4 linked regions of the Homo sapiens genome follow. The protein of the gene in region 3 interacts with the protein of the main gene of each other region in a biochemical or structural test. Each region holds a gene or a part of one and is shown on either strand. Other genes may lie near its edges.

Region 1 (7,027 bases), on a different chromosome or scaffold from region 3:
CAACAAAAAGAACACATATTTTAACATTGTATTATGATAATGCTTCCTATGTGACAGAGTATTTAATTATGAAATAATATATATAGGTATTTGCAATTGCTCATAAACATATTATTGCATAAGTATACAGATGGATGTCACAGTGTTAACATGAAAAATCATGCTTACTGCATTTACTGAAAGAGATGTCGTGATTTCCTCTTTGTGTTCGAAGACATTGAATAAAGTGCAAATGAACCATTTATGGGCCAAGAACATGCCCCAGTACAAAATTGGACATTTACAGAGCTGTTTAATTCTAAGGAATTGTCAGGAATGGGGACCATGCCCTTATTTTACCTGTTGGGGTTTCAGGCTTTTGCACAACCTACCAACTGTACTGATATGTGACTTTAAATATTTTTGTCATCTGTGCACTGCCAGAAAAGACTCCATTCTTTCTTTACTAGAGCCCTTTCCAAGTTTCAAGTGAGGTTTGCCTAGAAAAAATGAGCAGATGTTATTGTATATGTTGCTATCCAAAAGAAAGTAGGATTGGATGAATAAGACTTAGAATTTATTAATAATTTATTCCACAAAGATTGAGCATTCATTGTGTTCCAGGCACTCTTCTAGATGTTAGGGATAAAACAGGATCAAAACAGAGAAATCTGTTTTCATTGAATCATTGAATATACATTCTAATGGGAAGAGAGAGGCAATAAAAACAAACCAAATTATAATATTTAGGTGATTATAAATAATATGAGAAAAATTAATTTGAAAGAATAGAGTGAAGTAGAGGGCACTCCTTCAGATAGAGAAGGCTTTTTGGATGAGGTAATATTTGAGTAGATATTTAAATGAAGTGAAAAGAAGACAGAATGTCTGACTCAAGAATTTGAAGCAAATGAGAGGGTACTTCTCCTGTGCCAAGGGAGTACTTAACCACCATATATGCTTTTCTATACAAATCAATGCCACATGTCCCCACAGAGTCCATTGATTAATGTTCAAAATATTCCTTAACCGGTGAACTAAAAATTATGTCCTGCCCTGTTATTCATTATAGTGATTTTAGGATCACATGTGTGGTCCATGACCACAGAGGTGACTTTCCAGCCATCCTGTAACCATGTTGCTCTTTTGCCCTCTGGGGATATGGCTATTCAGCCAGCGTGGCACATGCCTCATACAGAGACCTCTGCCTTTTATGAAAACAGACACATGATAGTGTATTTGCCTTTTTTAACAAAACGATTCAGATAGGGTCAAATGTATTGTAGGTCTTCATCCTCAACACAAACCCATCTGTTTTATGAAATATGCTAGGGAAATACTCATGCATAAGAGAAATTGTAAGTCTAAAACAGTGAAACTTATTGTAAAATTATTTCCCATAAAGCAGAAAATGAGATATGTGGGTATCTGCAGGGAGTGCTTTCCAGGAAGAAATCAATTTCATGGGACCTGAGATGGGAGTGTGGTTGATAGTGTATCTGGAGAAGCACGCTCAACAGAGAGAGTGGTAGGAAATGACTTTGGAAAGGTAACAATAACAAAGCAATACTAATACAACATTAAAAATAAGAAGTACCTTTTGTTGATGCTTACTGTGTGCCAAGCATGGAGCACTTTACATATATTTTCTCCTGCCCCCAAGGAAAATCTTTGAATGTGAAGCTGATGCTCATATCTACAATTGGTATTTCTCCAGGCATTATATCTGTTAATGTTGTTGCCTGTCTTCTTACGAGGTGAAAATAGTGTGATTTTCTGAAGTTCAGAACTAGGCCTGCTTCACTTAACTTTACACTGCATTATTCAGTAGAGACTTTTATGTCAAATGAAGGAATGAGAAATGAACTACAATTATATAGTTATTTACAGAAAGGTTAAGGTTAAATCTTTTTGCCTATGGTTTAAAACACACCGCACAAAATTACATAAGTTATTCAATTGCTTTACTACATTTAGAACATTACGACAAAAAATTTAAATTTATTGCAATGATTCCTAACATTTTTAGAGATGAAAGCTTTGCTGGTTGATTGCAAATCCTTGCTACTCATTGCCTCAATCCTGAGAGTGTGGTACCATGGTCTTCATGTCTCATTCTTGACAGTACGGTATCACGTATATAATTAAGTTAACATTCATTAAAATATATTTAATATTTCAAAATTTGGGGACTCTCATTTAAGGATCTTGGTGATACTTTGGAGACATATTCTTTTATGATTAAACATAGTTATTATTTCTGATATGTGAAAGACATCATTTAATTTTTGCATTTGGAAATAGAAATAAAGGCTTCAAAATGCATTGTATTATATAACATGTGATGTCAAGAGCAGCATATTAATTATATTGACGTGTTGCAAATTGCACAAATGTTCAGTCACTTTGTACTTTAAAGACTTTTTTGGAAACTTGTATGTCTTCTTTCTGACCCTTGCCCCTAATGCTAATCTTGTTGATGCCTTAAGACATTATAAGTCATATGACTTTATTAGTGAAAATAATTGCAGTGTTTTATACATATATGTACACGTATATGTATATGTATGTATTTGTACCAGTGTGAAATTATTTTATTTAAAGGAGAAAGAAAAACCGAAATCAAGGAGGAGCACTGGGGAACACTGGATCCTCAGTTAAAAAACTTAAGTCAAAATCAATATTCTGAAAGGTAAACCTGAAACATCTTGTAGTGCTAGAAAATAAGTATTCAAAAAAATGATGTAGGTGTGTCAAAGGGACACAGGGATCAACTAAAAAAGCTCCCAATAGCCAAAACTGGAACAATTTCAATAGCAAAAGGAAGTACTATTGGATTGCAAATCATAATATAAAATAAACACCCATGAGTCCATACTGATATAAATAGATGACTGAGTAAATGAGAAGGCCGGCCGTGGTGGCGCATGCCTGTAATCCCAGCACTTTGGGAGGCCGAGGCAGGCGGGTCACTTGAGGTCAGGAGTTCGAGACCAGCCTAGCCAACATAGTGAAACCCCGTCTGTACTAAAAATACAAAAATTAGCCAGACGTGGTGGCAGGCACCTGTAATCCCAGCTACTCGGGAGGCTGAGTTAGGAGAATTGCTTGAACGCAGGAGGCAGAGGTTGCAGTGAGCCGAGATTGCGCCACTACACTCCAGCCTGGGCGACAGAGTGAAACTCCGTCTCAAAAAAATAAATAAATAAAAATAAATAAATAAATGAAAGAAAAAAGACAATTTTTTTGTGCAGAAGAATTTCAAATAATTTATGCCAGCACTCTGCCCTCAAAGAGGTCGAGCAGAATACTGGGCCTTAAGTGTAAGCTGCACATAGTGACTTCTTTCCAAAGGGTCGAGTACGGTATGAAAGAAGGGCAGGAAAGTGTAAATTTACACCATTAGCGGAGAAGTCTGACAAATATGAGCTTAGCCAGATACTCAAGTTTAACATCAAAAGTGCTCAAAATTGCTAAAATTTTTTACATTCTCACCAAAAAATAAAAATAAATTGGTGAGGTGACAGATATGATAATTAGTTTATCAAATCTTTTTAATGTATACATAGATCAAAACATTGCATTGTACCCCATAAATAAGCACAATTATTAACTGTCAATTAAACATTTTAAACATTAAAATATTGTTCAATCATGTTGACAGTATGTACACTTAGTGTGATGTAATGACAATAATATTTACCTTTGTTATCTTCCTCCCCCATCCCCATCATTCCAATCTAATCATAAGAAAAACATCAGAGAAATTTACATAGGGGGACATTCTACAAAATACCTGGTCTATACTCCTGAAACTGTCAGTATTATCAAAAAAGAAAATCTGAGAAACTGTCACAATCAAGAAGAGCCAAAGGAGACATGAAATATAAATGTGATGTGTTACAGAAAAGGGACCTTTAGTGGAAACTGAGGAAATTGAACAAAAATGGACTTTAGTTAATAATAATGTATGAATATTGGTTACTTAATTGTAACATATTTACGATACTAACAAAATGTTAATAGTAAAATAAATTGAGTGCGGGGTATGTGGGGACTCTATTCTATGATTAAACTATCACAGCTTTTCTTTAAAAAAAATGCAATATTTTAGCAAGGGTTATCTGCGTGAATCAATTTCCTAAGTCAGCAATAAAGGACCATCCAATTGGGAAAACTGGGTATTGGTTGTTGTTTGTTTTGCTTGTTGGCAACTAGTTAACGTAATACTGAGTCAAAATCAATGGGCTGTTACTGTCTCTAATGCATAAATCCTACACATTAGAAACAAGATAATATCATAAAGGCAATCCTAAAGAAGTTAGCTAAAGTTCTGATAACATCTAGTAACTACATGCAGTATCAAATCTGACTAACATGATATTAATTGTGGCTATCATTCAGTGTATATCAATTTTAAGGCTGTAGCAACTAATTAAATCACAGTTGGGTATAACAGAAAAACTTATTTTTTTATCACTGAGGATTCCACGAACACTAATGAAGTGGTATATATTTATTAGTATTTTCAAATAAAAATATGGCCTGCTACTTTAAAATAATATTTACATTGCTGCGATTTATCTCTCAAAAGAAAAACAATGACAGATATAAGACAGTCTTTATTATATAAAAATTTTTATCATCTTCCTATGCTAAAAGAAAAATATAGTCATTAAGTATATCTTACTTACAGTGTTTCTATTCCATTTAGATAATCATTTCACCATGAAGAATGGAAAATTTTCAGCTATGGTGTTTGTTTGAGAAATAAGATTTTACAAGTAGACTAAAAATAACTATCTAAGAAAAGGTGACTAGAAGTGAGAAAACTTAAATCAAATCGTTTTCAGTTATCTGATGTTTTAGGATTAAATGAGCATCATTGAAATTTTGAACATTAACCATTACATAAAGGTTTACTCTGGAAACACTATAACGTATGTATTTTCTAAATCAATACATATATATTATACTTACACTATCATTTGCACTGAAAGAGACCAAATATCAATGATCATATTTATTGAAACTATCAGCAGTGAATTCATAGTTCTTTGTAACTTCTGGTTAACATTTCTTAGCTTATCACTATTAGTCACTATGACTCATCCCTTGCATGCTTTTAAATATTACTGTACAGAATGTGTGTCTTGCCCTCCTCCCCACATTGTCTATTGCTCTTTCTTCATCAGCAGCCATACTAAATACCTTGCAATTTTCTCGGCACTTATGTAACAGAAGCAATTGGTTCTTCATCAAGCCCTGGGTAGCTTACTAAAGGCAAGCTATCTATTACATTTCTTGTCTACCCTTTTCCTGTAAAACTAGACTGCTATCAGCACAGTGAGACTTAGGTGTCCTTTTCTGGTTAATGTTGATTACAGTACCTGTAACAAAACTGAAAACAACGCATGAGTAACAGACTGTCACATAAAATTGTAAGCAACACAGCTACTTAATTTAGTCTGAAGTATGTTGCAACGTGCCAAAATTCAGTTGTTTAAGATGTTGGTTTTCTATTAATGTTTCCTCCATTCAAGAATTATTTATTGAGCCCTCATTTATGTGCATGATGGTTTCCTACTCATACAAATGAATAAAAAGGTAAATAATATGTGCTAATTTTCACCAGAGGCTTATGGCATAGTTGGAGAGATAAAGTGTATTCCCTTGAAAGGTTTCATGGCCGTAAAAAAGAAGTGCAATGTAAGAAAACTTTAAATTGCTTAGTCATTGAGCTCCATAGGCATTCAAAGAAAAGAAAGTCTTTCTGGCCAGAAAAATCTTGGAATGTTTCATGGAGGTGACATAATTTGAGATTAAGCTTGAGGAATGGACACATTTTAATACAACTATGGGAAATAATTAATTATAGGAAGAACGAAAAACCTTTCTATTGCCTTTCTAAGGAAAAAGGTAATGAAGCAGAGAAGTTTAATGTATACTCCAATGGAAGACTTCAGTTTTGTCGAAATGAAAGACATATATTGGAGAAGACTACAAAATGAGGAGACCAAAAAAGAAGGTCAGAGCTATATTATGGAGGCTCTTAAAAGACAAGATAGGGACTCTGGACATTTTCTTAGAAGTCAGAGCGTATTAATCCTCAAGAAATCTCTAAAATATATTGTGTGTGTGAATATTTTGAGGGAGAGGTTCCATTCACTTTCCTCAGGTTCTCAAAAAGTTCCATTTTACAAGAAAATTTAAGAGGTACTGTTGTAGACAATGAAGAATCAGTGAAAACTATAAAACTATGGAATGAAATAATGAAAACAATGGAAAAATTTATCATTGAAATTCCTGAACAAGAGACGAAAATAGTCTGCAATTTTTAGTTAATGAGATTTTTGCAAGGAAGTTTTCCCAGGCAGTTAGAAACACCTCACTTTTATATATTTACACTAATTGTCATCTTGACATGGATTACCTAATCTACTATAAAAGATTCCAAGCTTTTGAGAACATTCTTAAAAATATAGTTCTGCAACCCTGTATCGTAAGCTGTTGCATCATAGCACCATCTTGAAACTGGACTCACCATTACAGTGTGTCCTGCATTGGAGGCCAATAACCACTTATACTCTTTGTCCCTGAGACCTCATCATCATTCTATCACATTCACATGGGTGCCTGCAGCACCACAACCCTGGCTGCCAAGAGCCTGGGCCTGATGTTAAAACTAAGACCTAAGCAACCAAAGCCACGCGACACTCTCCTCCCTAGGAAACAGTTGGACCTGCACAGCAGAGAATCTTCTGAACAACTTGCCAGCTTCCCACACCCGCACATATATGTGTGTGCCCATGCCCATCCTCATAGCCAGTTTAGTGGCTGTTCCAACCCCCTGGAGAGCTTTCCACCCCCACACATCCAGCATAAAAACCAGCCTGGTGTTTCCTTCCCAGCAAAACGGTGACACTGCCATCCCAGAGCTCCACAGCCTAGGCCACTGACATATATACCATATAAAAGTGACACCCTAGGATTCATCTGTAGGAAAGAAAGACTCTCTCTGGGAAAGCTACTCACAAAATTGGAAAAA
Region 2 (7,027 bases), on a different chromosome or scaffold from region 3:
GTTTCCTCTGGGTTAGCCAAAACACTGTCTGTCTTTTCCCCGGGAGCCCTTGATGGTTCTGGTGTCCCCGAGACCTCTGGCAGTAGCCAGCTTGGCTGGGGTGGTGCGGTGGGAGGCTCCTGTGAGACCAGAACCGGAAATTGGCTTGTTTCTCAGTTTTGCTGTTAGGATTTTCATGTTTATTTTAGGACATCGTTTACATAATGAGGATATAAAAGTATCTTTTCCTTTTAAGGGAAAACCTCTAGACTAGGAAAATTTGTTCCTAGGATTTGTGCCATGGGTATCATTTGAACCAAGCTCTGCTGACTAGAGACCCCTATCTTCTAGGATGGGGCGTGGTGATGGGGCGGGGGTCACCTGGGTCTCCTGGATGGGATGTGGTGACTGAGAAGTCATCCTGGTCTGGACCTGGCATCGGCTGCCAGCGCTGGTGCTGCCTCCCCTCCTTTCTGTGGGCTGTACACTGTCAGATGTGTGGACTGATGGCACATGCAATTTGAGGGACAGCAGACCCAGGGCCTGACAGAGACCTCAGAGATCGCCAGTGAAGGGGTGTTGCGGTCAGGTGACTGTCAGCCTTAACAAACGTGTGGGTGAAGAGCTGGACCCCCCACAGAAGCCTGCCCGTGTCCTCTGCCACAGCCATGGGAACTCTGAGGACAAAGATGACACACATGAGGACCCACTGTAGGGAAAGATAGGCGAGGCACTGTGAAGGGGATGGTTGAAGAGGAATACAGAAAGTTCTAAAACTTGTTTCTGACTCTTTAATTTTGGGATATGCACTGTTTCTATGTCCATACACAGGGACACCTTCCTTCCTTACGTGTTGTGAGGATTGAATGTAACAATGCTTTTGAAGTTCTAAAGCGTAAATCAACATTCGCTGTCTGCACACAGGGACCCCTTTCTTCCTCACGTATTGTGAGGATTAAACTTAAAGCTTTTGAAGTTCTGAAGCCTAAATCAGCGTTTGCTCTCTTCTCTTGCTGCTTCTCGTGCTCCTCACCCCAAGAGCCATTGCCTACTCCCAGGCTGAGTGCTGGCAGCACATAGGTGGGGCCTGCTCGCTGGACGAACTCGCATCTGGGGATGACTACCATCAGTGTGCTCTAGCTCTTTACCGGAGCAGCTCGGTCCTTGTTCTACCACCTTGAGACTCTGAGATTATTGGAATCCATTCTGGCTCTGAGTGTGCATGTTTCCATTGGATATGTCTGCATGGCACTGATGTGCTGGAGGACCTCGCCATCAGTAGGATCTCATGGAGACCCACATGTCCTGTGCTGTGTATAGTTATTGTTGCTCATATGAGAGCAGGAACGGGACCCCTTAGGGATGGGAGTCCCCTTTGGCATTTCCAGATAAGCAGCGCAGATTTGGGATAAAAGCTGGAGCCTTCCAGATGTTAAAAGCAACACTTATGTTTCATAAATTCTGGCTGTTGCTCATGGAGATGAGAGAGCCACCATTGTCTCTCATTGCTAACCACGAGTGTCTCTCTTGCCACTTGCTGCCCAGTGAGGAGTTGGGGGAGTTCATGGAGACCAAAGGTGCCAGCAGCCCTGGGATTCTCGTGCTGACCACGGGCCTGAGCAAACCCTTCATGCGCCTGGATAAATACCCTACGCTGCTCAAAGAGCTCGAGAGACACATGGAGGTACTGCGCTTTCATTCTCTTACTTGGAGTCCTTACCAAGGGTTAGTGGCATGGTCAGACTTACTGTGAAAGAAAGTATTATTCATGATTTATTTTAGAAGCCAGAACCAACAGAGTTTACAAAGAGTTTTGTTAAATATTATGTTTTTCTCCTTATTCCAGCTCTATTAGAAAACATTTACCCCTTATCTCTCTTTTACCCACTGCTGCTGATTGAAAAGTTTCCAAAAGCTGAAACATGAGAACTGATTTTCAGATAGTGTTGAGATGTCTTACCTGGATCATCCAGCTACAAACAATGTGTGCATAGGTTATAGGGTAATACTGTACTAATCATTTGATGAATGATTGTGCTCTTTTAATTTTGAATAACAGGTTGCAGCCTAGCAGAAATTTGGGTTGAAGTTACTCTCTTGGCTTGAGTTGGCAAACCTTTTCTATAAGGGGGCAGACTGTAGGGTCTTCTTCACGGCTACACAGCTCTGCCATTTTAGATACTGTATGTGAGCCGTGGCAGTGTTCCAATAAGACTTTATTGATGAAGCAAGTGTTGGCTTCCCCACCCCTGCTGCTTGTGACTGTTCTCTTCCAACTTATATTTCCCCAAAGTCTAATGGCTTCGTGATTTGCTGAAAGACTGACACTTTAATGCTGAGGGAAAAAGGGAATGTTAAGGGTTGAAAAGTGTTAGAAAAGTTTCAAGCTGGTCTGTAGAAAGTACCTTTTTAAGAAAAGCTTTTCCTTATGAAAGCTAATTGTATGTTTCTTTTACTCAAAGGATTATCATACAGATAGACAAGATATTCAAAAATCCATGGCTGCCTTCAAAAACCTTTCAGTAAGTGATTAAGCATATTGTTTTCCCCCCCAGACATTATTGTGACAAATGAATGTAAAAGAATTATCAACTGAAAAAGTCAAATGATTAAAAAATGACTTGTGCTGACATGAAAGAAAAACAGAGTCGGCATTCTGTGGCTGGTAAACTCCTTTTAGTGGACTATGATAGAATAATTATTTAAATTTTTTAAAGTCACTGTGTAATTGATGTTAGATCTACTTTAAAATTGTTTAAAACATTTTTTTACCCTTCATTCATGTTGTCTTTAATGATTTATTGCAAAACAGAACAATGGTGGTTCCATTTTCTCTGCTGTTGTGTTGTCTTACCAACTGCGTTTTGGAAATATATGGCCTTATTTTATAGCACAAGTTATACTTTCTGTTTCTTCTTTTCAGTCTTCCATATTGGCAAACACGAACAAAACCAGAATGAAAATACAGTTCTTGTCCTGTCCACATTTCTTTTTTGTACAAGTGGCAAAATGTGCTCTATCTTTCTAAAATAATACTTAGTATTCCAGAGCAGTTGTGTGTGTTGCTTCTCTTAACTTGGTTTCATACTTCTAAGCAAATACTTTCAATTCCCTATAATTAAGCAAATCGCTCAATAAATTATCTGTCTGAAGAAGTAAGATATAAAGCAATAATTGTCTTAAGGATGATACAAAGCAATGTGGCCGGAACTTAACATTCTGAAAGTTTATGTCTGTTAACAGTGTTGTTCTGTGTCTGTCAGGCCCAATGTCAAGAAGTCCGGAAGAGGAAAGAGCTTGAGCTGCAGATCCTGACGGAAGCCATCCGGAACTGGGAGGGCGATGACATTAAAACTCTGGGCAACGTCACTTACATGTCCCAGGTCCTGATTCAGTGTGCCGGAAGTGAGGTACTGCTGCCCACATGCACGCACCAGGGTTTCTGTCCCACTCTTAGGAGCTCATAGCAGAAGATTTTAAAGGCATCTCAAGCGATGAAAAATGTCTAATAGAAGCTCTATCTTATAATTTGTGAGCTACTTTTTATTCTTGACACAGGAGAGAGGCTTATGGCATGTTAGAGAGGCTTAGAGCTGAGTGTGGACTTGTTGATCAGTTTGATCCAGCTGAAGTCAGTGTGGCCCGAAGCCCACGTGAACTGAAGGATAGATAGTGTGCAGAAAGACTTGCAGGAGTCCTGTGCACACATCCGCATGGAGCTGTATGCGCTTATCTGGCCAGCAACTTTGTACCAAGGCTCACTCTCACAGGGACCTGCTGCTCTCAATGCTTTCGGGTCATTATACTTTCCTGTGAAAGTATGCTAGCTGACATATGCTTACAGGAGTCACAGTTTTCTTACAGGTTTGGTTTAAGTGAGAGATCAACCCAGATTTTTGGGACATACCCACCCACACAGTGAAAATCGAGCAGTTTGTTTCATGATTCACATTGACATACATTCAATGGGTCACTGAACAGGCACCTCTTTCTGAATTTTATTCTACCTTTGCAAAAATAACATGATCAAAACATGCGAAATGACTCATTTTTGAACACAAGACTCCAAGGAGAATAAGAAAACTAAAACTTCAAACTTATATAGTGTGTTTTCCTTTCCACCTGTAAAATATCACCCCTTCTACATAGTCTTGTAGTTTGGGTACCATAAGAAACCATGATTATAAAAACTTCACATCTTTTCAGAAGAAGTTTCTTTTTGAGTCATGCTCTTTTAAACTTTAATCTGTGGAAACATTTCCCAAAGTGTGTTCTTTATAATATTAGATCTATACAGCACTGGTGGGTGTTACTCCAAAATGCTTCAGAGTGGTTCTGATCACGACTGAACGTAATTAGTGGAAAAGATTCTTTATGATAGAGCTCCTCAGAGACTTGGCTGTGAATGTTCCCAATGTATGTTGTGATTCTTCAAGAGGGGAATATAGCAAGTCGTTCTCAGTGACTTCTTTAAAGTACGGAAGACTCTTTTCTCAAGGTGCTTTGCATAAGCCTAATGTTCTGAGGAATATACTTGGGGAAACTAATTCCTAGGACTGATTTCACTTTTTTGGGCCGTAGTTTAAATGTCAACATGTGAAAAGGACTGTGGCATTTTTTTGTCTCTTTTTGGATTCTTAGGAACTTTTTTCTTTCACTTATGGTCTCTTTGGCTTTTATCTTACTGAAGCAAATGATTTTTAATACATAAGTAATACTTTTAAGTCTGATGTAAACCAGGTGATGTTTATGGGGTGGATGAAAACAACACTGAGTCGACATTTGGGAGGTTTGGGAAGTGCCAGGAATTACTAGTAGACCAAAATTGATTTTAACATTTTATCCTTTCTTTAGCTTAAAGACTCCACCTGTTCCCCCTGACCCCATTAAAATTTATAGGTTCTCTCCTTTTTCTCTGAACCAGAAAAAGAAAATTTTAGCTTACCTGAAAATAGTTAATCACAGAGCTGAACTCTTTAACCAAATATAGTTTCAAGATGTTACACAGGCTAATTGTGAGTCCAGGATCTTTTAATCAGTCCGTTTACTTTCTTACCTTTTGTTTTTTGAAGAATTTGGAAGTCCTTCTCTTTACCTATATGTTAAAGCTCTCTCATAATCATATGTTAAGACTTAATACAGAATTTATCATAATTGTTTCCATTTAATTTACCTGATAAAACTTGATAGAAATACCTAAACGAGAAATATCATGTAATGTTTCATAGGGCCTAGTATAAATAAGTGAAGTATTTGTGCTCACATTTGTTAAGTAGATGTTTTTTAAGAAATGTTTTGGATTTCTTTTTTTGTATTAGGAAAAGAATGAAAGATATCTTCTACTCTTCCCAAATGTTTTGCTAATGTTGTCTGCCAGTCCTAGGATGAGTGGCTTTATCTATCAGGTAAAACACAATTTAAATTTATATTTTATTGTGGATCTGAGGATAATTTCAAACTGGCTTTGAATTTTGTGTTAAATATTACGTGTATCTATCTGTGTATGTGCTGTGTGTGTAGTGCTGTATATTCAGATATGGACGTACAGCTCCTGTTTGTGTTTCGTTGTGACTGCAAGCATATCCTATGTTAATTTCAAAAAAGGAAAGAAGTGTAAACTGTAGAGCAACCTCATAAGGACACAGACTACTGTGGCACAAGTCAGTCTCTGTCATTGCCTTCTGTCGTTTCATGCAAAATACCTTGCTCCTCCTTGCTATGGTTTTATTCTGTGAAATTGGTTCAAGTAGGGCTTGTGGGTTAGTGGGGTAGTGTAGACTAAGATCTTGTGTCAGTGGCACGGCACCGCCCAAATGCATCAGCAAACAGAAAGTGATGTAAGGGTGTAAGTAGCAGTGTGTGATCGTTGAACCTTTTTAATTTTTGTTTCCCTGCTTCTCTTTGAGAAAATGTGACAGCAGATTTGGGAAGGAGGTGCAAGGGTGAGCAGGGCCTTTTCTGTTGCGACAGTGGTTTATAGTGGTGGTATATGAAGGAGCTGGTATTTTCGCTGTCTGTCTAGTAGATGCACTTGGCAGGTTTCATTCTTCTTTTTCTGGGAAGTTACAGAGGCTCATATCCTTCCCATCAACTTTCTGAGGACTGGCCAGTCACCACGTAACCACTGCAGCAGAAGCCGCCACTTCGTGTTCTCTGGGTTGCATTTCATTGTAGCACGTGTTGTTTTGTGTTGGCGCAGCAAGGACGTTCAAGATCCCTAAGCAGACACTATGCCCTCACAGAGGCTCTGCCGACACCCAGAGAGGACTTGTGGCCATACGCTTACACCAACACACGTGCTTTAGAATTGGTGAATCACATATGTAGGAACAGACTCAGGAAAGTGAGGCTGTAGTTTGTTAGGCCACTGCTGAAGAGAGGTGATCTGTGGCTAGGATAGTGCCCACTACAGTTTCCCCCAAACTAGCAGCTACTTCTGTGTTAAATGACCTTGATAAACCTAAATCTCTGTCCTTTCTGGTCAGCACTATCTGGCTTCCGATTTTATATCCCCAGAATCTCATTCCAGTGGCTGGAGGCAGGGGCCTTCTCTAACCTAAGGAGAGAAGAGGTTGTCACTTGTGGCAGGCTTGAGTCTCTGCCTGTGTGGCTGGTGCTTACACTGGATTTGCCCTTGATGTGTTGACAGACTGCTGGAGCTCATCTCAACAACAGGATTTTATTTTTCCATTCTTAGCACAGTGGTGACCCATGGTCTCTGTATCATTGGTATCCGTTTCTACCATTAGAACACTGGCTTTGGGGGATGCCAAAAAGTGTTCGGTCCAGCCACAGTCATAGTGTTCTATACACCGATGTTCAGAGGGGCTAGGTTAAACACAGTTGTGCGGTTTCATTTTCTGTAGGACTTACAGCTGTTAAAGTACTTATATGCATTACGAATCTTGGAAAGGAGTTCACAGTGTGTAGCATTTTTTAAATACGCTTGGCCACAGAAGTGTCCAGCAGTCTCCTCTTCCACCGGCCATGCTTTAGGATGAGATTTCTCAGCCTGGGCACTGCTGACGTTCTGGACTGGATCGTTCAT
Region 3 (6,701 bases):
CATAGCTTACCACAGCCTCAAACGATCCTCCTACCATAGCCTCTTGAGTAGCTGGGACTACAGGCACATGCCACCGTGCTCAGCTAATTTTTAAATTGCTTTTGTATCTCTGTGTTGCCCAGGCTGGTCTCCACCTCCTGGCCTCAAGCGAACCTCCCACCTTGGCCTCCCAAAGTGCTAGGATTACAGGTGTGAGCCACTGTGCCCGTCCCTAGGGTATTCTGATGAAGTATGTTTGGAGTGTGCCATATGCACCTGTTATCACTGCAGTGCCTTAAGGCAAGGGGTAGTGCAGCCAGGTGTATCCAAAAAATCACCCTGGCTGCTGGGTGGAACAGGATTGTAGGGACAAAACTAGAAGGAGGGAGATTAAGAAACTTACAAAGCCCAGGCAACAGGTGATTGAGGAACCTGGGGAGCTTCACTAGGACTGGAGGGTGAGGGAGGCTTCAGGTGACTGCCAGGTGGCTGACACTGGTGGTGGACAAACAGGTCACTGAGAGGAAGAGCAAGCCAGAGGAGGAGGGGTGGGGGACGCGGTGAGATGAATTCAGCTTTGTCCCTTCTGGGCCGGGTGTGCGTGGAGATGGGTCTGGGCCTGATGTGAAAAGGCGTGTGCTGCCCTGCTCCTGGGTAACTGCCGCCTCTGTCCTGTTCTTCCCTCTGCTGCCTTCCTCTGGACTTAGATCTCGGCAAAAGTGCATGTCTCAGAGGTATATGGTGCCTGCCGGGGCAGCAGGCCTGAAGGTGGGGTAGGGCGGGGAGGCATTTGGTGTGCAGCATCTGGGGTGCCATCTCCCCGGGATCCCTGCATGTTGGGGAGGTTGCTGGCATGGGCCTGGCCACCTCTCAGGTCTCTCCTCTCCTCCCAATTCCCATCTCCCTCTGCCCTCAGCCTTGACTTATCCGAATTGGCCAAAGCTGCTAAGAAGAAGCTGCAGGCGGTAAGTCTGCTCCAACAGTGCCCTGACACTTGAAGCTGGCCCCTCTCTGATCCCCCACCCTCTGCTCTTGCTTCCTCTGCCTCTGACTCGATGACCTTTTCCAAGTCTTTGACCTGTCCCCTCACTGGCCTCAGCAGTCCCCTCTCCCTGACCTCCCTACAAGGGGATGGACTGGTCCCTTCTCTCCCACCTTGGAGTTTGGAACATGATCCCTTTCCACTTTCCCATTCTGAGACTGTAGGGGCTGGGCAGCACAAGGAAGGCCACCGGTTCCCCAAGGCTCACAACATGCTGGGGAGCTGGCCTTGGCACTGGGAGCCGATGCATCTGACAACATCTGGGCCCCTCTCTTCCTCCAGCTCAGCAACCGGCTTTTTGAGGAACTCGCCATGGACGTGTATGACGAGGTGGATCGAAGAGAAAATGATGCAGGTGAGTCAGGGAGCAGGAGTGTCTGGCGTGGAGGACCCGAGCGGCCCAGGCATGGGTCTCTGGTCCTTTACTGGGCTAAGAAGGGGTGCCTGGGGTTGGGGCTGCTCAGAGGCCTGCAGATGAGCCCCTGCTGGCTGTGAGCCTGCCTGGGCAGCATCCCAGGCTGGGTAGAGTGCTGAGGGGGAGGCGGCTAGCGTGCTCCTCCCCCAGCCTCAGACTGGGGCTCCTCTTGCTCTGGCAGCCTCCCACTTTGGCTGTCTCCCTGGTACCGCTCCACCCCCCTGCATCACTCCTTCCTGGCCACAGCCGGATTCCAGCCCAAACTCTGGGTTTGGATGAGTGGCACTGGCCTTGTTCCATTTGTCTGTCCCCAGCCGGCCACGCCCAGCCTTGCCCTGGCCCGGCCTAGCTCTGCGTGCCCAAAGACCACCCCTGTTCTGAACACCAGTGCTCAGTAGGCGTGGGGGCAGCTAGGAAGGCTGGGCTCAGTGCTTCCCCACCCCCACCTTGGGGGCCTGGCCACCGTGGCTGATCTGCTCCTGTCCGTCCCCTACAGTGTGGCTGGCTACCCAAAACCACAGCACTCTGGTGACAGAGCGCAGTGCCGTGCCCTTCCTGCCTGTTAACCCGGAATACTCAGCCACGCGGAATCAGGTGAGGGGGCTGGATTGGGGGCCTGGGGTGGTCTACTTCATCCCCGCGGTCCCTCCTCATCCGGCAGTGGGCTGGGGCCTGAGCCAGCTCTCCAGCATTTGCCAGGGCCTCCCTCAGGGCACAGCTGGCACTGGGATTTGGGAAGGTCAGGAGGCTGTTGTTTTGAGCACTTGGGGAGCAGCTCCGGTGGGTGTTCCGGCCTCTGCTCAGGCACCCTACTCTATCATACCCTGCCACGGGTGGCCTTGGCTGCTGACTAGCCAGGTGAAGCTAGGCTGGGACGCTTTAGCTGGGGTTAAATTAAATGGCAGAGCCATGCCTTGCTACTTGGTCCCTGCCGTCCTGCGTCAGTCATAAGGGGTCCCCTGAAGCCAGCCTGGCCCTTTCTGCCTTGCAGGGGCGACAAAAGCTGGCCCGCTTTAATGCCCGAGAGTTTGCCACCTTGATCATCGACATTCTCAGTGAGGCCAAGCGGAGACAGCAGGGCAAGAGCCTGAGCAGCCCCACAGGTGGGAGGGTTGTGTGGGAGGGTGTGGGAAGCAGGCGGGGCTCCAGGGGTCTTTCCTGCATGGCTCTCCCTGCCAGTGGTGACCTGAGAGATGGGTTGTGTGGTGGAGTGTGGCCTGAGTGACACTCCTGTGTCCTCAGACAACCTCGAGCTGTCTCTGCGGAGCCAGAGTGACCTCGACGACCAACACGACTACGACAGCGTGGCCTCTGACGAGGACACAGACCAGGAGCCCCTGCGCAGCACCGGCGCCACTCGGAGCAACCGGGCCCGGGTCTGAGTCCCACCCTCCTTCCCACTCCCCTGTGCCCTGACCCAGGCCTTCGCTGAGGCCCAGCTCTGTCCTCTTGTAGCCCAGGGGCCTGAGGGACAGGTGGGCTGCTCCTAGCCTCAATAACTGCCCCCTGCGGGTGTTGGCCTCCCTGCCCCCAGGTGCTGACCAGCTTAGGTCTCTCTCTGCAGAGCATGGACTCCTCGGACTTGTCTGACGGGGCTGTGACGCTGCAGGAGTACCTGGAGCTGAAGAAGGCCCTGGCTACATCGGAGGCAAAGGTGCAGCAGCTCATGAAGGTCAACAGTAGCCTGAGCGACGAGCTCCGGAGGCTGCAGCGAGAGGTGAGGGTGCAGCCTCGGTGGGAGGGGGAGCCCCAGGACTCCAGGGGGTTGACAGCACTTTGCACCCATAGATCCACAAGCTGCAGGCGGAGAACCTGCAGCTCCGGCAGCCTCCAGGGCCGGTGCCCACACCTCCACTCCCCAGTGAACGGGCGGAACACACACCCATGGCGCCAGGCGGGAGCACACACCGCAGGGATCGCCAGGCCTTTTCCATGTATGAACCTGGCTCTGCCCTGAAGCCCTTTGGGGGCCCCCCTGGGGACGAGCTCACTACGCGGCTGCAGCCTTTCCACAGCACTGTGAGTCACCTATGGGTCTCAAGGTGTGGGGAGATGGGTGGGGCTGCCGCAGGGTCCACCATGACGCTCGCTGTGCTAACATCCCCAGGAGCTAGAGGACGACGCCATCTATTCAGTGCACGTCCCTGCTGGCCTTTACCGGGTAAGCCTGGGGAAGGCGTGTCCATCTTAGCCAGTAGGTTCTGAGCCCCAGGGGGTTCTGGGCTCTGTGCTGAATTCGGGGCTTAAGATGATTAGACTGACCTGGTCCCTGCTGCACTGCTGGTGAGCAGGGGGGCAGTGGGGCACACTGACTCCATCCAGCGCTGCCCTGGGTTTCAGATCCGGAAAGGGGTGTCTGCCTCAGCTGTGCCCTTCACTCCCTCCTCCCCGCTGCTGTCCTGCTCCCAGGAGGGAAGCCGCCACACGGTAATGTTTCCATGCCCAGTGCCCACAGGGTGGCTGGGGGCCGTGTGGGCTAGGGGCAGTGTGGGTCCAGGAACACGGCGCTCACAGCCCCTTCCCTCCGCCCTCCAGAGCAAGCTTTCCCGCCACGGCAGTGGAGCCGACAGTGACTATGAGAACACGCAAAGTGGGGACCCACTGCTGGGGTGAGGCTCCCTGGGTCTCCAGTCCAGCCTGCTCACATGCCGAGGCGGGGAGGTTGAGAGGGCCCCCAGTGTGTGAGGACCAAGGCGGGCGGCTCCGAGGCTGGAACGTGTCTTTCTCTATATGTATCTTTGTCTCTGTTTTCTGGACCTGGGCCTCAGGCTGGAAGGGAAGAGGTTTCTAGAGCTGGGCAAAGAGGAAGACTTCCACCCAGAGCTGGAAAGCCTGGATGGAGACCTAGATCCTGGGCTTCCCAGCACAGAGGATGTCATCTTGAAGACAGAGCAGGTCACCAAGAACATTCAGGAACTGTTGCGGGCAGCCCAGGAGTTCAAGCATGACAGGTACTGAGTGGAGGGGGAGGTGAGGGGGATGCAGTTCCTGTTGGCTTCTAGGGTGTTGCAGAGAGCATGAGGGGCCCTGGGTTCTGCTGTCCCTGGGAACCTCCCTTGAGAGCCCCCTGCTTTATAGCCTCCCTTCTCCCCGCAGCTTCGTGCCCTGCTCAGAGAAGATCCATTTGGCTGTGACCGAGATGGCCTCCCTCTTCCCAAAGGTACAGGGGCCAAAGAGAGGACCAGGAGTGGGAGGGCCTCGAGCTGGGGCAGGCGTGGAGAATCCCATCTGATCGCTACCTGGGTGGAGACACAGACAAACTGGGCCCTGATCTCAGCTGGTGGCTTAAAGTCCAAGGTCCAGCCTCACTCCTGCCCCCTCCAGAGGCCAGCCCTGGAGCCAGTGCGGAGCTCACTGCGGCTGCTCAACGCCAGCGCCTACCGGCTGCAGAGTGAGTGCCGGAAGACAGTGCCCCCAGAGCCCGGCGCCCCAGTGGACTTCCAGCTGCTGACTCAGCAGGTGATCCAGTGCGCCTATGACATCGCCAAGGCTGCCAAGCAGCTGGTCACCATCACCACCCGAGAGAAGAAGCAGTGACCTCTCTCCCCACACCCTCACCTGCACCCTAGGACCTCACTGGCCATAGGAGCTGGGCCACTCCAGACATTAATCCCCACCCCAACAGAGCCACTGGCACAAGTGCCCTTAGTGCTGCCACACTCCCTGGCAGCCAGGTGCCCTGGTGCCCACCCCTGTCGAGCCCCTAAGGATGGGGAGGTGGGGGGGCAGGAGCTTCTGTCCCCCACATTCCATGCACCTCCCCTCTGTATATAGCATCTCCCCCCTCCTAGTGAGCAGGGGCCTGCAAGGCATCACTCCCAGCCCCTCGCCTTCTAGGGCACCCTCAGCAAAGGGGCAGGTGGGGACACTCCAAGTGGGGCAGCTCTCCGTACATGCGCCCCACCCCCATGAGCCAGTTCAGCCCTACTGGGGGCTGAGCGGGGGCATCCCCTCCTTTGTACATAGTCTCCATGGATGTCCCTGCCCTGTAGCCACCAGCCCCTTGCTGCTCTCCCTTTAATGCCATATGGCCCCTGCCTAGGGCACAGGCCCCAACCTGTGTGCTGGGGTCCCCAGCAGCAAACACTGGAAAGTCTGTTTTTTTTTTTTCTTTCTTCTTCCCCACCCCTTAATTTTAACTTTGTGGTAACTGAGTGCCCCCGCGTGCCTGCGTGTTGAGTGTGTGGGCGGCAGTGCCGTTCCGGAGGCCTGGTCCATCTGGAGTTTTGAGGGGTGAGGGGACCAGAGCAGTGGGACCAGCATGGGGATCAGCTTCCCTTCCCCACCTGGAGCCAGGGACTGTCCGGGTAGCCAGTTTTGGTCCTGCCAGCTGCCTCCCTGATCCCTCCCCACTCTCGCCCCTTCTCTATGAACTTAAATCAAAAACCACTTCCCTCCATCTCCTCCTGCTCCTGCGTGGAGGGGGAATGTGTGCTGGCTAGGGTGGAGGACTGAGCACCTGAGCCTGGGGCTGGCTCCCCGGGGTCCCCGACTCAGCTGGTGGCTGTGGAGCTGAGTCCCCTCCCCGTAACCTCTGCAAGGCCAGCACCCACCATCACTACCTGCACCTGCTGTGGTCCCACCCTCTGGAGGCCTGGGAACCTGGCTGCAGCCTGGGAAGGCTGGAGAGGCAGACGGTGGGACCCACCAGCTCTCTCCCCATCCCGCTTCTTCCCTGGGGGCCAGGCCCTACCTGTGTGGTGGTGGGTGGGCTGTCAAGACGTGTCATGTACATTTGTATCAAAAATAAAGAAGTGACCATGAGCTGTTTCTGATGCTTAGAGAATGGGGGCTGGAGGGAGGTGGCAGACATGAAGGGTGACTGCAAGTGCCCCAGGACCCCCGCCCTAGGGAAGCCCCTGTGCTGGGAACGTCTGTCTAGTGGAAGAGTTAGTTTGCGAATAACAAAGCTAACATGTATGACGATAACGCCACCCTCCCACGAGCACATTCCTAAAGCCCCATGTCCAGGGACAGGTTGGCCAGCGGGGGCGGGCTGCCTCAAACACCACCTCCATGGCCTAGGACGAGGGTCCGGGTGGGAGTCTCTGTGCGGCAGATGCACAAGCTCAACTCCAGAGTCTACTAAAAATAATTTAATTAGAAACGGAGTTTTGGCAAGGGAGGCAGAAGCGGCTCCTTTTCTCCCCTTGGCCGCCCACTCAGCAACCAACAAGGAGGAAAGCCCCCGCAGTGCTCGGCCAGTGCCGCGCCATCGCCACCAGGGAGCGCCCCGCGCGCGGTCCACGTGGCAGAGGTCGCGGC
Region 4 (7,027 bases), on a different chromosome or scaffold from region 3:
AGATGCACTCTGACTGTGTTTTCTAACCCGATTGCTTGCTCTTCCTCTGTTCATGTTCTCAGTGTACTTGGTGGGGGCTTTGACCACAACTGTGGTCTAATCATGATCATGTGCGCTTCATGGGAGACAGGCACTGTACTCAGCACTTTACGAGCTGTATCACAACCTTTCAGAAAGGGAGGTGTTTTCGCTCCACTTTATACATGTGGAAACCTGAGCTCAGGGAAGTTTAGTGGTAGTGCTGGGATTTGAACCCAGGCTCATCCAATTCCAGATCCGGTTATCTTAATCATCATAAGGTGGTAGGTGCTGGTGACTAACCAGGGGGATGAGCCTTGGGGCCTGCTGAGTAATTGATAGTTACCTTTAACAATCTCTGCCCTAGGGGCCCATCCCAGGAAATGGCAAAGGGTGTGTCCAGTGCAAGACTGGGTAGCTTTGCCTTCCCATCCTCTAGCAGGGGGAACAGCCAGCTGTTGGCAGTGCCCAGTTGCTGCTGGAATCTGGACATGTCTTCTTTCAGCTTCTCAGCAGTCTTGACCCTTTGGAAAACAGTGCCTCATTGTCCTTGGGGGTAGTGCTAGGGGGGCAGAGGAGTTGCCTGGGGCATTGGGAGCTATGGAGCCTCCCTGTTTCCATGGAAAGTCTGGACTTTGGGCTTTCCTGTCTGTGGTCCCTCTGTGTGTTAGGGCAGAGTCAGGGCACCCAGCTGCTGGGCGTGTGGCAGAGGCGGCATTTACCCATGCAGCGATAGTGCCCTCCTGGTGGGCTCTGCATCAGTGCCAGACCTTCTCCTGGGCTTGTGCTAGTAAGGGGCAGAGCTGGGATTCAAACCTTGGTGGGTTTGATTCTTCAGCGGGTACACTTTCTGATATGTGAAGCTGTCTGCTGCCTGGGCAGACATAGCTTGATGGAGAAATGCTCAGCCTACTGGAACCCAAAGCCCTGTCACTATAGGTTCAAGGTCTTTTGAGGGAATATCTCAGTATTCCTTTTTTCCAGCTTCCCTAGTGATGGTCATGCATTGAAGAGACTGGGTGTACCCTTGGCTGGAGAGGCTGATGGAAGGCCAGAGTTATTGGTGGGCCACTGAGCAGCCCTCCTCTCCTATTTAGTCATCCTGCTTGGAGTATCTGACTCTGAAGCTTCTCTTGCGTCTTTACCTCGCTCCAGAGATGTTGAATAAACTTCCAGCCTCATTGCAGCCTTTCCGGGGATCATCCTAGTCTCAGTGCCTTCATTAATAATAACAAAATCTGCCGGGCATGGTGGCTCACACCTGTAATCCCAGCACTTTGGGAGGCTGAAGTGGGTGCATCTTTTGAGGTCAGGAGTTCAAGACCAGCCTGGCCAATGTGGTGAAACCCAATCTCTACTAAAAATACAAAAATTAGCTGGGCGTGGTGGCGCGTGCCTGTAGTCTCAGCTACTCAGGAGGCTGAGGCAGGAGAATCGCTTGAACCCGGGAGGCAGAGATTGCAGTAAGCCGAGATCGCATCACTGCACTCTGGCCTAGGGGGTACTTTTCTTTTTTACAGTGTTTACAGAACTTTTTCTCATAATATTTATTGAGCTCTTATTATGTGCAGGCACTGTGCTGGGCACTTTACATGCATTGTTTGCTTGAATCAAGCTGGCCATATGAGGCAGGTTTTATTAGTAGTCGTATTACTACTACCTGTTTTATAAGTGAGGAAACTGAGACACAGAGAGGTGAGCCCACTTGCCCAAGTTCTACAACTAGTGAATGGCAGTGCTAGGATTTGAATCCAGGTGGTCTGGCTGCTGAGCGGGACTTGCAGCCAACTGTTTTGTACACTTTTTTTTGGAGACAGGGTCTGCAGCCTCTGCCTCCCAGGCCCAAGTGTTCCTCTTCCCTCAGCCTCCCGAGTAGCTAGGACTACAGGCATATGCCGTAACGCCCCGCTAATTTTTGAAATTTTTTGTGGAGACAGGGTTTCACCATGTTTCCCAGGCTGTTCTTGAACACCTGGCCTCAAGCAATGTGCCTGCATCAACCTCCCAAAATGCTGGGATTACAGGCATGAGCCATTGTGCCTGGTGCATTCTTTACACTTCTGTTCATAATACTGCATCTGATATGGGTTGCCCATTGGTTTGACTGTTTTCTGTTTCTAGGACACTAACATTTTTCTGCACCCACCCTATTCTCTGTTGTCTTCCACATCTGTCATTTCCCTGTTCTCTGCAGCTTCTTGTCTGTCTTTTGTTCTTTTTTTTTTTTTTCCTGAGTTTCACTCTTATTGCCCAGGCTGGAGGGCAATGGCATGATCTCGGCTCACCACAACCTCCACCTCCCAGGTTCAAGCGATTCTCCTGCCTCAGTCCCCCAAGTAGCTGGGGGCATGAGCCACCATGCCCAGCTAATTTTGTATTTTTAGTAGAGACGGAGTTTCTCCATGTTGGTCAGGCTGGTCTCGAACTCCCGACTTCAGGTGATCCACCCGCCTCGGCCTCCCAAAGTGTTGGCATTACAGGCGTGAGCCACTGCACCCGGCCTTTTTGTTCTTTCTTGGGGACACACACTCAGGATGGGATGCAGGGTCCTGGGGGGAGTGTCTCCTGTTCCAGGGGAGGCCCCAATCCTCCCTCCCTGGTCACCTCTCCAGTCACCTGTTACTCTTGAGACAGAGCAGTGAGCTTACAGCACCACTGCCAAGGAGAACCTGGGGCAGGTCCCCTGTGGTCCCTTGCCACCTCCTCTGCTCAGGAATCAGAAGCCTTCCTGTGCCCCCAGCCCCGCTGCACCCGAACATGCTCCTTGTCTTTCCCGTATCCAGAGGAGGGAGTTGTTGAAAACTTTATGGTGGAGAATGAAGGATGTCCTATGGGAGGGGGAGAGGAAGAGAGAATCAGGAAGCTGAGTTTTCTCAGAAATGTTCACAAAGCAAGTCATGGAAATGGCTTCAGGGTGCCCTCCTCACCTGGGATGGGCCCTGAGACTCCATCGACAGCCTCACGGGGTCCACTCTGCCTTTTGCAGTCTGGGTCTTGTTGGGAGTCTCATATCTGGCCTTGAGTGTACATTCATACCCTGATAAGTCTTCCAACTAACTAACCGATTGCCTAACCAGTGGTGCTCAGGGCTGGCCTCTCCAGGGAGGCCTTGGATGCTGGGCCAGTGGTAGACAGAACATGCGGTTGGCCAGGCCCAGTGGAACCCCAGTGGCCAAATCTTCCCTTAAAGACGGACTTTTAATGCTTATTTCTTGTGTGATTGTGGTATTGTGGTTTTATGGGAGAATATTGTTATTGTTAGGTGCATGCTAAAGTATTTAGGAGTGAAGTGTCATGATGTCTTGCAACTTATTTTTATTTTTTCATTTTTTATTTTTGAGGCAGAGTCTTGCCCTGTCACCCAGGCTGGAGTGCAGCAGCGCGATCTTGGCTCACTGCAACCTCCGCCTCCTGGGCTTAAGCAATTCTCCTGTCTCAGCCTCCTGAGTAGCTGGGACTATGGGTGCATGCCACCACACCCGGCTAATTTTTGTATTTTTAGTAGAGGTGGGGTTTCACCATATTGTTTAGGCTGGTCTTCAACTCCTGACCTCAGGTGATCCACCTGCCTCAGCCTCCCAAAGTGCTGGGATTACAGGTGTGAGCTACCCCACCTGGCCTCAACTTAGTTTTATTTGTTTTTTTTTGTTTGTTTGTTTTGAGGCAGAGTTTTGCTCTTGTTGCCCAGGCTGGAGTGCAGTGGCACCATCTCAGCTCACTACAACCTCTGCCTCCTGGGTTCAAGCGATTCTGCTGCCTCAGTCTCCCGAGTAGCTGGGATTACAGGCATGCACCACCACGCCTGGCTAATTTTTTTATTTTTAGTAGAAACCAGGTTTCTCCATGTTGGTCAGGCTGGTCAGGCTGGTCTCAAACTCCCGACCTCAGGTGATCCACCCACCTCGGCCTCCCAAAGTGCTGAGATTACAGGTGTGAGCCACTGCACCCAGCTCAACTTAGTTTTAAATGATATAATGAAAAAAAGGATATACACATAAAGGGCAGAGAGCACAAGGGCCATGCGTTTACACAAAGTGGTAAAACAATGACAGCCATTCAATCTAAGTGAGAGTACCCGGGCCTCTCAACTTCTCTGTGTGCTTAGACATTTTTATAATGAAAAGTTGGAGAAAAGTAAGGAAACCCTGCTTTTCCATGATGGGCTTGGAGTTGTTGGGCCTAGGTGCTGGCCTGCGCCTGCCTATGGTTGGCCTGAATGACTGCTGGTCTCCTGTGATTGAGCAGGTGGTGGGAAGACTGGGTGAGCAGAGACAGTAGCTGGGGGGGCCTCAGGTGACAGTGACTGCTGACTATCATCTGGGAAATGGGGAGCACAGTGCTGTGACCTGTGCAGAAAAAAGACAGGCCCAGAGACAGTGTGTGTCCATAGGTGTGGAGGCAGCCTCATGAGTTATTTGAGCATGATGACATTAATCAGACCAGGGTTGAAGCATGTGAGATGCCGAACTCTGGTTGGAGTTTGAGATGGGTTGTCTAGGCTGATGGGATGCAGAGCAAGACTTTTTTTTTTTTTTTTGAGACGGAGTCTTACTCTGTCACCCAGGCTGGAGTGCAATGGTGTGATCTTGGCTCACTGCAACCTCTGCCTCCCAGGTTCAAGTGATTCTTGTGCCTCAGCCTCCGCAGTAGCTAGGATTATGGGCGTGCGTCATCACGCCTGACTAATTTTTGTAATTTTAGTAGAGATGGGGTTTCACCATGTTGGCCAGCCTGGTCTCGAACTCCTGACCTCAGGTGATCCGCCCGCCTTGGCCTCCCAAAGTGCTGGGATTACAGGTGTGAGCCACGGTGCCCAGCCACAGCAAGGCTTTACATAATTCAGGGAACGGTCTCTGGGCAGCTTGAGGCCTGTGGGCGGGGAGGAGATGTCTTTTGCCTCACATCATGAACCCCTTATCTGTGGCCAGTGGAACACCATTAACCTGTGGGCAGTGATGGCTGAGTGTCCCCAGGCTTTTGCTTATAGCTCAAGTCTGACCATCCAGTTTTCCAGCCTTCAGGCTCCCCCTCCTGGAATCCCCACTCCCTTGGTCCCTCCTGTCTAGTTTGTGCTGACTCAAAGCTGGCCCTCTTGGACCTCCAGTCTGTTTTGGGGAAATAGCTGGATTCTGGCACCAGTGGCCCTCTTGGCTCTGAGGCAGAGGTGAGGGCCCTGGTGCCTACTAGAAACATTTCGGGCAGCCAGCAGGCTCTCATGAGGGGAGGGCTTCATGCCAAGGTCTTCTTTCAGCCTCATGTCATCTATGTCAGCGTGCAGAGATGCCGAGGCTGGCCACTTGGCGAGGACTATGAGGTCTTCTAGCGAGGGCTCAGAGCTTCACTCTGCCTATTTGAAAGCAGCATGATGTGTGTTTTATGGGGGAGGGGGTGATGCTGGGAGGAAGCTTTATGTAATTCTTGGCTGGAGCTCAGGTAATTGTTTTAATGAAATGGAATGCAGCTTATTCAGAATTCGCTTGGCAGAAACAGCCATGTTCTGTTCTGTTTTCTTGTTGGGGAGAGCAGGGCACACATTTCCAGCTGTTTTGAATCGTAGAACTCTGGGTGAGCTGGAGCAAGGGGGGTGGAACCCTCCAGGGAGCTCCAGGGAGCTTCAGGCCGATTCTCTTCTGGATCCCGGTCTGTGTGTATTGTTTTGAATGAGCCTTGGAGACTTTGGCCTCTTCTAAAACATAAAAACCCTACTGAGGCCAGGCGCGGTGGCTCATGCCTGTAATCCCAGCCTTGGGAGGCTGAGGCAGGTGGAACACCTGAGGCCTGAAGTTGGGAGTTCGAGACCAGCTTGACCAACATGGAGAAACCCCATCTCTACTAAAATACAAAATTAGCTGGGCGTGGTGGCGCATGCTTGTAATCCCAGCTACTCGGGAGGCTGAGGCAGGAGAATTCCTTGAACCTGGGAGGCGGAGGTTGCGGTGAGCCAAGATCAGGCCACTGCACTCCAGCCTGGGTGACAGAGCGAGATTCCGTCTCAAAAACAACAACAACAACAAAAAAAAACCCTATTGAAAGCAGGCTATGAAATGGGTGTAATGCCTGCCTTCCACATTGTTGGGAGACTGAGTGAGGTGCTTAGCACATAGTAGACAGATCCTCAAGGATGGCCTCTATTTGCTCACGCTTTACTCCACCCCCCACGTCCCCATCTTTCTACCCCCTTTTATACCTCATGGTCATCATCTTCTGTCAGTGTAGATGGCTGTGGCCCCATGTGGCCCCGATGTCCCCATCTGCAGGTCCACCTGGCTCTCCTTTTTCTTCTGGTTCCGTTTTTCTCCTCTCCTTCTCTTCTCTTCTTTCTCTTTTCTCACAGGGTCTTGTTCTCTTGCCCAGGATGAAGTACAGTGATCTGATCACAGCTCACTGTAACCTCCAACTCAAGCGATCCTCCTGCCCTCAGCCTCCTGAGCAGCTGGGACTACAGGCACGTGCCACCATGCCTGGCCAATTTTTTATTTTTTATACAGCCGGAGTCTCATTATGTTTCTCAGGCTGGTCTCGAACTCCTGGCCTCAAGCAATCCTTCTGCCTTGGCTTTCCAAAGTGCTGGTATTATAAGTGTGAGCCACCATGTGTCTTGCCTGTTTCCCTCTTTTTACTTTTCTGCTTTTACTAACTTCAGTTTTTTGTTTTGTTTTTTAGAGAGTCTTGCTCTGCCGCCCAGAATGGAGTACAGTGGCATGATCTTGGCTCACTGCAACCTCTGTCTCCCAGGGTCAAGCGATCCTCCTGCCTCCGCCCCACCCCCCCCAACCCCCCGCAGTCCGCAGTAGCTGAGATTACAGGCACACACCACCATACCTGGCTAATTTTGTATTTTTGGTAGAGATGGGGTTTCGTTTGCCATGTTGGCCAGGCTGGTCTCGAACTCCTGAGCTCAGGTAATCCGCCCACCTCGGCCTCCCAAAGTGTTGGAATTACAGATGTGAGCCATTGTGCCTGACCTGCACTTACTAACTTTTTTACTTTGCTCCTTTTTATTTTATTT

The links.
Region 1: the proteins of GIT1 (region 3) and KLHL4 form a complex in vitro, tested with the Homo sapiens proteins (one study listed by BioGRID).
Region 2: the proteins of GIT1 (region 3) and ARHGEF7 form a complex in vitro, tested with the Homo sapiens proteins (one study listed by BioGRID).
Region 4: the proteins of GIT1 (region 3) and PXN form a complex in vitro, tested with the Homo sapiens proteins (one study listed by BioGRID).

The regions. Positions count from the first base shown.
Region 1 is NC_000023.11:87,520,793-87,527,819, forward strand, and holds part of KLHL4 (kelch-like protein 4), read left to right. Parts: intron 1-7,027.
Region 2 is NC_000013.11:111,272,290-111,279,316, forward strand, and holds part of ARHGEF7 (rho guanine nucleotide exchange factor 7), read left to right. Parts: intron 1-1,524; coding exon 1,525-1,663; intron 1,664-2,441; coding exon 2,442-2,501; intron 2,502-3,242; coding exon 3,243-3,389; intron 3,390-5,297; coding exon 5,298-5,384; intron 5,385-7,027. UniProt on the Homo sapiens protein: Acts as a RAC1 guanine nucleotide exchange factor (GEF) and can induce membrane ruffling. Functions in cell migration, attachment and cell spreading. Promotes targeting of RAC1 to focal adhesions. May function as a positive regulator of apoptosis.
Region 3 is NC_000017.11:29,572,974-29,579,674, reverse strand, and holds the end of GIT1 (ARF GTPase-activating protein GIT1), read left to right. Parts: intron 1-686; coding exon of another isoform or gene 687-713; intron 714-895; coding exon 896-944; intron 945-1,303; coding exon 1,304-1,376; intron 1,377-1,932; coding exon 1,933-2,030; intron 2,031-2,427; coding exon 2,428-2,539; intron 2,540-2,678; coding exon 2,679-2,812; intron 2,813-3,000; coding exon 3,001-3,153; intron 3,154-3,224; coding exon 3,225-3,455; intron 3,456-3,543; coding exon 3,544-3,597; intron 3,598-3,776; coding exon 3,777-3,863; intron 3,864-3,971; coding exon 3,972-4,045; intron 4,046-4,204; coding exon 4,205-4,387; intron 4,388-4,532; coding exon 4,533-4,596; intron 4,597-4,739; coding exon of another isoform or gene 4,740-4,760; coding exon 4,761-4,973; 3' UTR 4,974-6,200; downstream 6,201-6,701. UniProt on the Homo sapiens protein: GTPase-activating protein for ADP ribosylation factor family members, including ARF1.
Region 4 is NC_000012.12:120,255,721-120,262,747, reverse strand, and holds part of PXN (paxillin), read left to right. Parts: intron 1-7,027. UniProt on the Homo sapiens protein: Cytoskeletal protein involved in actin-membrane attachment at sites of cell adhesion to the extracellular matrix (focal adhesion). Recruits other proteins such as TRIM15 to focal adhesion.